Linked DNA regions of Homo sapiens: region 2 is linked to region 1. Evidence: fine-mapped expression QTL. A gene starts in region 1. The other region holds a variant in brackets. All regions are shown on one strand. Distances are from middle to middle.

The links.
Region 2: its variant is fine-mapped to the expression of SUCLA2 in whole blood (TOPMed, PIP 0.91).

Annotation. Positions count from the first base shown.
Region 1 is chr13:47,999,297-48,003,695 of GRCh38, forward strand. SUCLA2 (succinate-CoA ligase ADP-forming subunit beta) reads right to left here and starts at 1,977. Exons shown (of 11, transcript NM_003850.3): 1 at 1,884-1,977. The coding sequence starts at 1,973. SUCLA2-AS1 (SUCLA2 antisense RNA 1) reads left to right here and starts at 2,109. Exons shown (of 2, transcript NR_189308.1): 1 at 2,109-2,526; 2 at 3,139-3,395. RefSeq lists enhancers at 1,612-1,661, 1,682-1,731, 1,752-1,941, 2,318-3,517, 4,189-4,399 and a silencer at 2,062-2,171.
Region 2 is chr13:47,934,119-47,938,517 of GRCh38, forward strand. No RefSeq gene overlaps it. Among named protein-coding and RNA genes, the nearest start is that of LINC00562, 3.7 kb to the left of the region's middle. The variant T/C (reference allele first, on the strand shown) is at 1,903.

The DNA of each region.
Region 1 (4,399 bases):
GTTATTTGGAAGAATGTCCTTATTCTTAAAGACATATGCTGAAATATCTATTTTCAACGAAGGTACACTAGGCTAAAGATACCAAGAAATTGGAGGAGGGTCAGAGAACTTAAACAAATGTTTAAAACAGGCCGGGTGCGGTGGCTCAAGCTTGTAATCCCAGCACTTTAGGAGGCCGAGGCGGGAGGATCACGAGGTCAGGAGATCGAGACCGTCCTGGCTAACACGGTGAAACCCCGTCTTTACTAAAAATACAAAAAATTAGCCGGACGTGGTGGCAGGCGCCTGCAGTCCCAGCTACTAGGGAGGCTGAGGCAGGAGAATGGCATGAACCCGGGAGGCGGAGCTTGCAGTGAGCCAAGATCGCGCCACTGCACTCCAGCCTGGGCGACAGAGCAAGACTCCGTCTCAAGGAAAAAAAAAAAAAAATGTGGAAAACAAATTGCTAAATTAAATGTGTGACCTTGAACGAGTTTCTTAAGACTCCGTACTTCTATGTCCTCATCTACAAAAGCAAAGGGTTGGACTAAGGTCCTTCCAAACTCTAGAGCTGCATTTCTTAATACCAGGGTAGAAGACAGCAACTGTTATAAAGAAAATAATATTGGAAATTTCCATAAGGAGAAATGAAGGCTTTTAAATGAACTTCCAAAAAGATAAAGATTTTGACTAGAATGAAAACGTATTTGTCACTAAATTCCCCATTTTCTAAAAACTAAATAGCACTCTTCTAAGATTCATAAGAAGGAAGTTCAAGGTCAAAAAGTCACTTCTATCGGGAAGCAAACTCACAGAACTCACTACCCCTAGGCTGAAAGTATGAACAACTTCAATAAAAATGAAAAAAAAAAAAAAAGGTAGGGGCGGGAGGGCCCTAAATCAATTCATACTATGACATGTATGAAGAGTTACTTCAGAAAAAAACCCAAAACTCTGGAATTGACTTAGGACACCAATAATGCCCTTCCACAGTTTTTTGTTGTCAAAGTTGGAAGGAAGATGTTTGTTTTCGAAGTTGTGGAGCCAACTCAAGTACACGGCTTTAGAACCAGACACCTCTGGGATTAAATCTCAGCTTTGATCTTACCTCCTATATGACCTAGTCCAAATTACTTGTTCTCTTAACCATAATATGTTCAACAATGATGCAGGTGTTGAATGACTTCCTCACAGTTGCTGAAAAACCTGAGAAACTACACGTAAAGCGCTTAGCACATTACCTGGCACACATCAAATATTCAAAACAAGGCCAGTAACTATTATGCTATAGCCTATCCAGAAATAAGGCTATACAAAAGATTATTTTCTTACCTCTCCAACTGGTTAGGTAGAAAACATAATCTTATTACTGCTATTAACAAGTAGAACAGTATACAACTACTTGGAGGAGAGGGGAAACTTCCCTACCTTGCCCCACAAAAGGCAAGTCAGTAAGCACCGCTGGTCCTCTGACATTCCCACCTATGACAGCTCCCAAGAAACACAAAAGTACTTTTGAAGGGCATTCCCCCCTGCCCAAAAAGGGGCGGCGCAAGTCTCAGCCCACCGTGCCAGACGCCGGAATGGCAGCAGAAAATGTCCTGACCCCCTCACCTCCACTCAGAGCCCACCTGCTCCCGCCCATCTCTTAGAAACTGCAGGAGCAGCCACGGCCGGGCCGCCGGGGATCCTCGCGGACTAAGGGCTGGGTCAGAGCCGCGCAAACATGGGCTCGCTCGTAGTCCTGGCGAGCAGCACTCCCAGGCAAGTCGCCCGAGGGCCTTGCAGGGCACCCAGAAAATGTCACTGCCGGCGAAGTGACCCCGAGCCGGGCCACGGGACCCCTCACACCTCACCCTTTCTCCTGCCGACCCTCGAGACGACAGCGGACTGGAAGGCATTACCTGAGCAGCAGCCCGCTGGGCCGTCCGAGGCCGGTGGTTCCGAAGGGTGGCCACGGCCACTAGCCTGCCGTAGAACATGGAGGCCGCCATTTCTGAGTCGGACCCCGTCCCCTCGGCGCCGCGCGCAGGCGCACAGGCGACAGGCGGCCCAAGGCGCAGCCTCTCTGCAGCGCTCACCTACGCCCCGCCTCGCGCCACCCGTTGGGGGCGGGGCCTCGGGTTAACACTGCAGCCGCTAGACCAGCTCCCTGGCGGGCGCGGAGCAAGCTTTGACCTTTGGAACTGGGCACCGCAGCCCCAATATCTGCCCTGCGGTCAGAGCAACCTGAACACTTCCTAGTGAATTGCAATGTAAAGGTGACCAGCGCCGCCACTTGGGTGATCTTAACTTCTCTCAGCCTCAGTTGCCTCATCTGTAAAATGTGTTTCATTCAAGAAATGATTACCCAGTGTCTACTTCGTGCTAAACAGCCTTGAGCCCTTGGCCTACAGCAATGAATAAAACCATTTGTGATGCTCAAAGAGAAGATGGTCGGTGTAACGCGCTTGTGATGCTCAAAGAGAAGATGGTCGGTGTCATGCGCTTCTGATGCTCAAAGAGATCGGTGTCACGCGCATCCGTGTGAAGACACCGCCAAACAGGGTGTGAGCAATAAGGCTGTTTATTTTAACTGGGTGCAGGCGGGCTGAGTCCGAAAAGAGAGTCAGCAAAGGGAGATAGGGGTGGGGCTGTTTTATAGGATTTGGATGGGTAGCGGAAAATTACAAAGGGGGTTTTTCTCTTACGGGCAGGGGCGGGGGTCACAAGGTGCTCAGTGGGGGAGGTTCTGAGCCAGGAGAAGGAATTTCACAAGGTTAATCACTCAGTTAAGGTGGGGCAGGAACAAATCACAATGGTGGAATGTCATCAGTTAAGGCAGGAACCGGCCAATTTCCCTTCTTTTGTGATTCTTCACTTGCTTCAGGCCATCTGGATGTACACGTGCAGGCTTGGGCTCAGAGGCCTGACAGTCGGCCACTAGTTACCAAAGCTGGTGGCAGGCTGGAGTCTCCAGGGAAGCTATTGATTGATTGATTGACTGATTGACAGGGTCTTGGTCTGTCACCCAGGCTGGAGTGCAGTGACGCGATCACAGCTCACTGCAGCCTCAACCTCCCATGCTCAAGGGATCCTCCCACCTCAGCCTCTGGAGTAGTTTGGGACCACAGATGTGTGTCACCAGGCTTGGTTGATTTTTTTATTTTATTTTTTTAGGGACAGAATCTCTCTATGTTGCCCAGGCTGGTCTCCAACTCGTGGGTTCAAGCGATCCTCCTGCCTCAGTCTCCCAAAGTGCTGGGATGACAGGTGTGGGCAACCACACCCAGCCAAGGATCTGGTTTTTGAAAAGATAAATAAATTTAACAAACCTCCAGCAAGACTGCAAAGAAAAAAGAAAAAGAGAAGACACAAATTACCAATGTGAGGAACATACCAGGGAATATAATTACAGAACCTTCAGACACCAAAAAGGAATGCCATAAATAACACCACATAACATAAATTTGACAACTTTGACAAGATGAGCGAATTCTTCAGAAGGCACAAATTACTACAAATAACCTAATATGAAAAGGTAATTTAAATAGTCCTCTAACTAGAGAAAATTGTAATTGTAATTTTTAAACTAAAAAAAAAAAAAACCTGAGATCTCCAGGCCCAAAAGCTTTCACTGATGAATTCTATAAAATGTTTACACAAGAATTAACACCAATTCCATACAGCCTCTTCCAGAAGATAGAAGAGGAAGGAACAGTTGCCAATGTACTGTATGAAGTTAGAATCACCCCACTACCAAAGCCAGCAAAAGACCGTACAAAAAGAAAAAAATACCAACACTTCTCATGAATATTGATGGAAAAATCCATAGCAAAATATTAGCAAATATAATTCAGAAATATATAAAAAGAATTGTACAATATGACCAAGTGGGATATATTCCAGAGATGTAAGTTTGTTTTAATATTTGAAAATATGTGTAATGCACTATATTAAGTTAGAAAAATCACATGATAATTTCGATCAAAACAAAAAAAGTAGCTGGGCACAATGGTTCATGCCTGTAATCCAAACACTTTGGGAGGCCGAGGTGGGAGGATTGCTTGAACCCAGGAGTTTGAGACCAAACTGGTTGGGCCACATAGCAAGACTTCATTTCTATAAATAATTTTAAAATTAGCCAGTCATGGTGGTGTACACCTGTGGTCCCAGCTACTCCAGAGACTGAGATGGGGGGGAAATCACTTGAGCCCAGGAGGTCCAGGCTGCAGTGAACCGTGATCGTGCCCCTGCACTCCAGCCTGAGTGACATAATGAGACCCCCATTACAAAAAAAAAAAAAAAACAGGCCAGGCATGGTAGCTCACGCCTGTAATCCCAGCACTTTGCGAGGCCGAGGCAGACAGATCATCTGAGGTCAGAAGTTTGAGACTAGCCTGACCAACACAGAGAAACCCCGTCTCTACTAAAAATACAC
Region 2 (4,399 bases), 65 kb before region 1:
CAACTCAATGTGGGGGCTTCCAGGTTAGAAGTAGATAAAAGACATTAGGGTGCATTCTTTTGAGTCCTGATGAGCCTTCCACTCAATACACAACTTAGTCTGACTCAGTGAATCTGCATTTTTACATAAACAATAGGGCAAAGGAAGCAATCAGATATGCATTTGTCTCAGGTGAGTCTCAGAGGGATGACTTTGAGTTCTGTCTGTCCTTTGTCCACAGTGAATTTCCTTGTGGACGAGGATCTGTGGCAAATTGCGAGGGAGGTATGTAGCTATGTTATTTAGGAATAAAATGGGAGGCAGGTTTGCCTGACATAGCTCCCAGTTTGATTTTTCCCTTGGCTTAGTGATTTATTTTCCTTTCACATAACCACAGAGGAGAATGCCATGGAGAGGGGCAATAACAGGCACTGAACATCAGGAATGCTGGCAGGCGAGTCAGATATGGCTCCAAGTCTGTTCAGTGGTCTCCACAAGGCTTCCACAAAGGCCAAAGGTTTCATGCTGACGTATGATAACAAACACAAGAGAACCAACAGCCTGGGCAAATTAAATCTACGGTTTTTTATGAGCTAGTCCATAATGAAAAGTCTCTCACAGACTGAAAAAATGTTCCATATCAATCGAATCACAATATTTAAGAAAGCCATGACCAATTTGCTTAAGACTGCTCCTTCAGCTGCCCCTCTTCAGCATCCCTCCCAGAGGAAGAAAAAGCATTAGACAAAAAGATTCAGATCAACACTGCCCCCCTTCAAGAGAGTCATGGCACACCAGACACAAAGCAGTGAATCACCTGTCATTTGTTTCCAGTTCTTCCTCATCAGCCCACAGTCATACATCTGGCATCAAATAGTATAGCTTTTACTTTTTTCCTAGTAGAATCAGTGTCATTCAATTGCAAGTTGAAAGTTAGGAAAATGGAAAGTTCAATTTTTCTACAAATAAGCAAGGATAACTTTGACAGGCGCTGCAACACTCTCTGTCATGGTTTCAACAGATCTCTTTCCTACCTCCTACTTTAAGTAAAAGTTAAATAAAGAGTCTCCCTGTATGTGCCAGTTTCATATACACGCAAGAACATACAGGAAGTTAGTATATGATAAAGATGACATTTTAAAATTGGTGGGAAATAGATCAAATAGGGAAAAGTAAATCCCTTAAGGGATAAGTAAATGGTGTTTGGGAAACAGATTAGGCATTTGAGAGGGGAAATTTGCATTCATAACTCAAGTTCAGACTTTGTAACAAAACAATTAAGCCTTTCAAAACATATCATGAAAACTAGAAACCACAAAGACTAATACATTTCATTATATTTAAAATGACATATGACATATATATAAAATACATAATAGGCAAAAATGGTTAATCTCAAATATACAAAAAGTTATTAATACTAGGAAGAATGAACAGTCAATAGAAAAACAGTCAAAGAACATGAAAAGGGCTGGGCGCGGTGGCTCACGCCTGTAATCCCAGCACTTTGGGAGGCTGAGGCAGGCGGATCACGAGGTCAGGTGATCGAGACCATCCTGGCTAACACGGTGAAACCCTGTCTCTACTAAAAATACAAAAAATTAGCGGGGCGGGTGCCTGTAGTCCCAGCTACTCAGGAGGCTGAGGCAGGAGAATGGCGTGAACCCAGGAGGCGGAGCTTGCAGTGAGCCGAGATCGCACCACTGCACTCCAGCCTGGGCGACAGAGCGAGACTCCGTCGCAAAAAAAAAAAAAAAAAAAAAAAGAACATGAAAAGGAAGTCACACGCTGACACACACAAACACACACACACATACACTTCCACAAATGCCCAGTCAACAGATGAAAGCTCAATCAACATTAAACAGGACATGGTTTTTGCCCATTGGAATTAGCAATACAATGTTATCAAGTATGGAAATA[T/C]TATTGTGCATTATGAATGGAAGAGTAACCAAAAGAGACTTTCTGGAAAGCGGTTCATGCTTTTACACAGCTATTCCACTTACAGGTTTTTACCCTAAGGAGAAATTACCCATGTGCTGAAAGACATATGCACCAGAGTGTTCACCTATTATTTATAATGTTAAAGACATATAAACCAAATGTCAATAATTGCAAGGCTAGGTTAAATAAACCATGATATACACATTCTCTTGTATGTGCAGCTATTAAAAATTATGTAGTCCTATATTTGATGCCATGGAAAGATCCTTATTTGAAGAAATGCAGATTATAGAACATTATGTTTATGATCCTATTTATATAAAAGTGTATTCATATCTATCCACATATGCTCATATTTAGAGACGACCAGAAGATTGTTTACAAAACTGTTAACATTAGTTATTTCTGGGTTCTGGCACTGCAGGTGATCTTTACTTGTCTGCACTTTCTTGTATCATTCCAGTTTTGAAGGGGTTTATTTTTTCAATGAGTATGTGTCATTTTTACTAAAACAAAGATATTTTTTCTAAAACGATGCTGGTTTCATCAAACAAGGATATCAAAAACAAATAAAAAGATGCTTCTCTGCTTTAAGAACAAATCATAGGAATAATCATAAAGTAGTTGAGGCTTTTCTCCAGTTTCCTTCATATTACATGCTCAGCTGGTCACTCTGGAATTGTCACTCTCAACTGATGAACTGCAGGCTCTCAACTGGTGGTCAATCAACTCCTATTGAAGACATTAATAGATGTTAGTGTTTAGTTGGTGATATGGTTTGACTGTGTTCCCACAATTCTCATGTGTTGTGGGAGGAACCTGGTGGGAGGTAATTGAATCACGGAGGTGGGTCTTTCCTGTGCTGTTCTCGTGACAGTGAATAAGTCTTGTGGGAGCTGATGGTTTTTTGGTTTTTGCTTTTTGGGTTTCTTTTTTTTTTTTTTTTTTTTGAGATGCAGTCTCGCTCTGTCACCAGGATGGAGTGCAATGGCACAATCTCGGTTCAGTGCAACTTCCACCTCCCGGGTTCAAGCAATTCTCCTACCTCAGCCTCTGGAGTAGCTGGGATTACAGGCACACACCACCATGCCTGGCTAATTTTTGTATTTTTTTTTCAGTAGAGACAGGGTTTCACCATGTTGGCCAGGCTGGTCTTGAGCTCCTGACAATCAGGTGATCTGCCTGCATTGGCCTCCCAAAGTGCTAGGATTACAGCTCGTGAGCCACTGGTTTTATAAGGGGGAGTTTCCCTGCACAAGCTCTCGCTTTGCTTGCTGCCATCCATGTAAGACATGACTTGCTCCTTCTTGCCTTCCACCATGATTGAGGTCTCCCCAGCCATGTGGAACTGTGAGTCCATTAAAACTCTTTCCTCTATAAATTACCCAGTCTCAGGTATGTCTTTATTAGCAGTGTGAAAATGGACTAATATAATTGGCAACAAATGAACCAGGAAGCTTAGGCCACTCCTGGCCCTTTCAATACTTCTCCCAACTTGCTAAACTTAGTGATTTCTGTGTTACTGTATTAGTGCTGACTAGACTCTAGGGCACCCAACAGTCATGACTTCTTTAGTTAATGGCAATTGTTTCGCAGATTTACATAGCTATGAGTACCATAATGTTAATCACAACTACTCAATGCTGAGTCTCTTATCCCTAGACATTTGTTTATAGCTTACTTCCAATTTGTGTTTATATCTTCACAAATTGGATGTGATGGTGCTTTTTTCAGTCCTGCTCAAAATGTTATCTGTGGACTGATGCCAGTCCACAAACAGATCACAAATCTGCAAGTGATAAACAGATATTTTAAAATATTTAGAAACTTCTACAGCAGTTTGAAAGAGCAATTTTATCCTGTAGAATCAAAAATAAATGAATAAAAGAATTGAGGCTTTTCTGTGCTTTTTGAAAATTTCACTTTTCTAGTAATTGTTTTTTATAAAAGAATCAGTCCATTATAGAATTTTAATTTCCAATTTAAAAAAAATGGCCCTTATTTTTAAAAACTCATCTTTCCTCTCAGTTTAAGAGCTGGCTTATTATAACTTATGCACAGAAGCATAAATATGGTAGTGTATTAAATTTCCTAACTCTGCCATCAAAAATTAGCAGCAATTTCATAGCCTAAAACAACACAAACGTATTATCTCACAGTTCTGTAGGGCAGGCATCTGGATAGGCTTGGCTGGTTTCTCTGCTTAATTTCACAAAACCAAAATCATGGAGTCAGTGAGCTGTGCTCTCATCAGGAGGCTGTGAGAAGAACCTACCTCAGAATGCATTCAGATGGCTAGCAAAAGCCAGCTCCTTGCACTTGTAGGACTGAGACCCCCACATCCTTGCTCGCTGTCAGCTAACAGCCACACTCAGCTAAAGGTCTCTCTCCAGTCCTTGCACACAAACCCTACATCTCAGAAGCAGCAACAGGGCATTGAATTGTTGCCTCCAGCTGTGGATTATTCTTTGCTTTT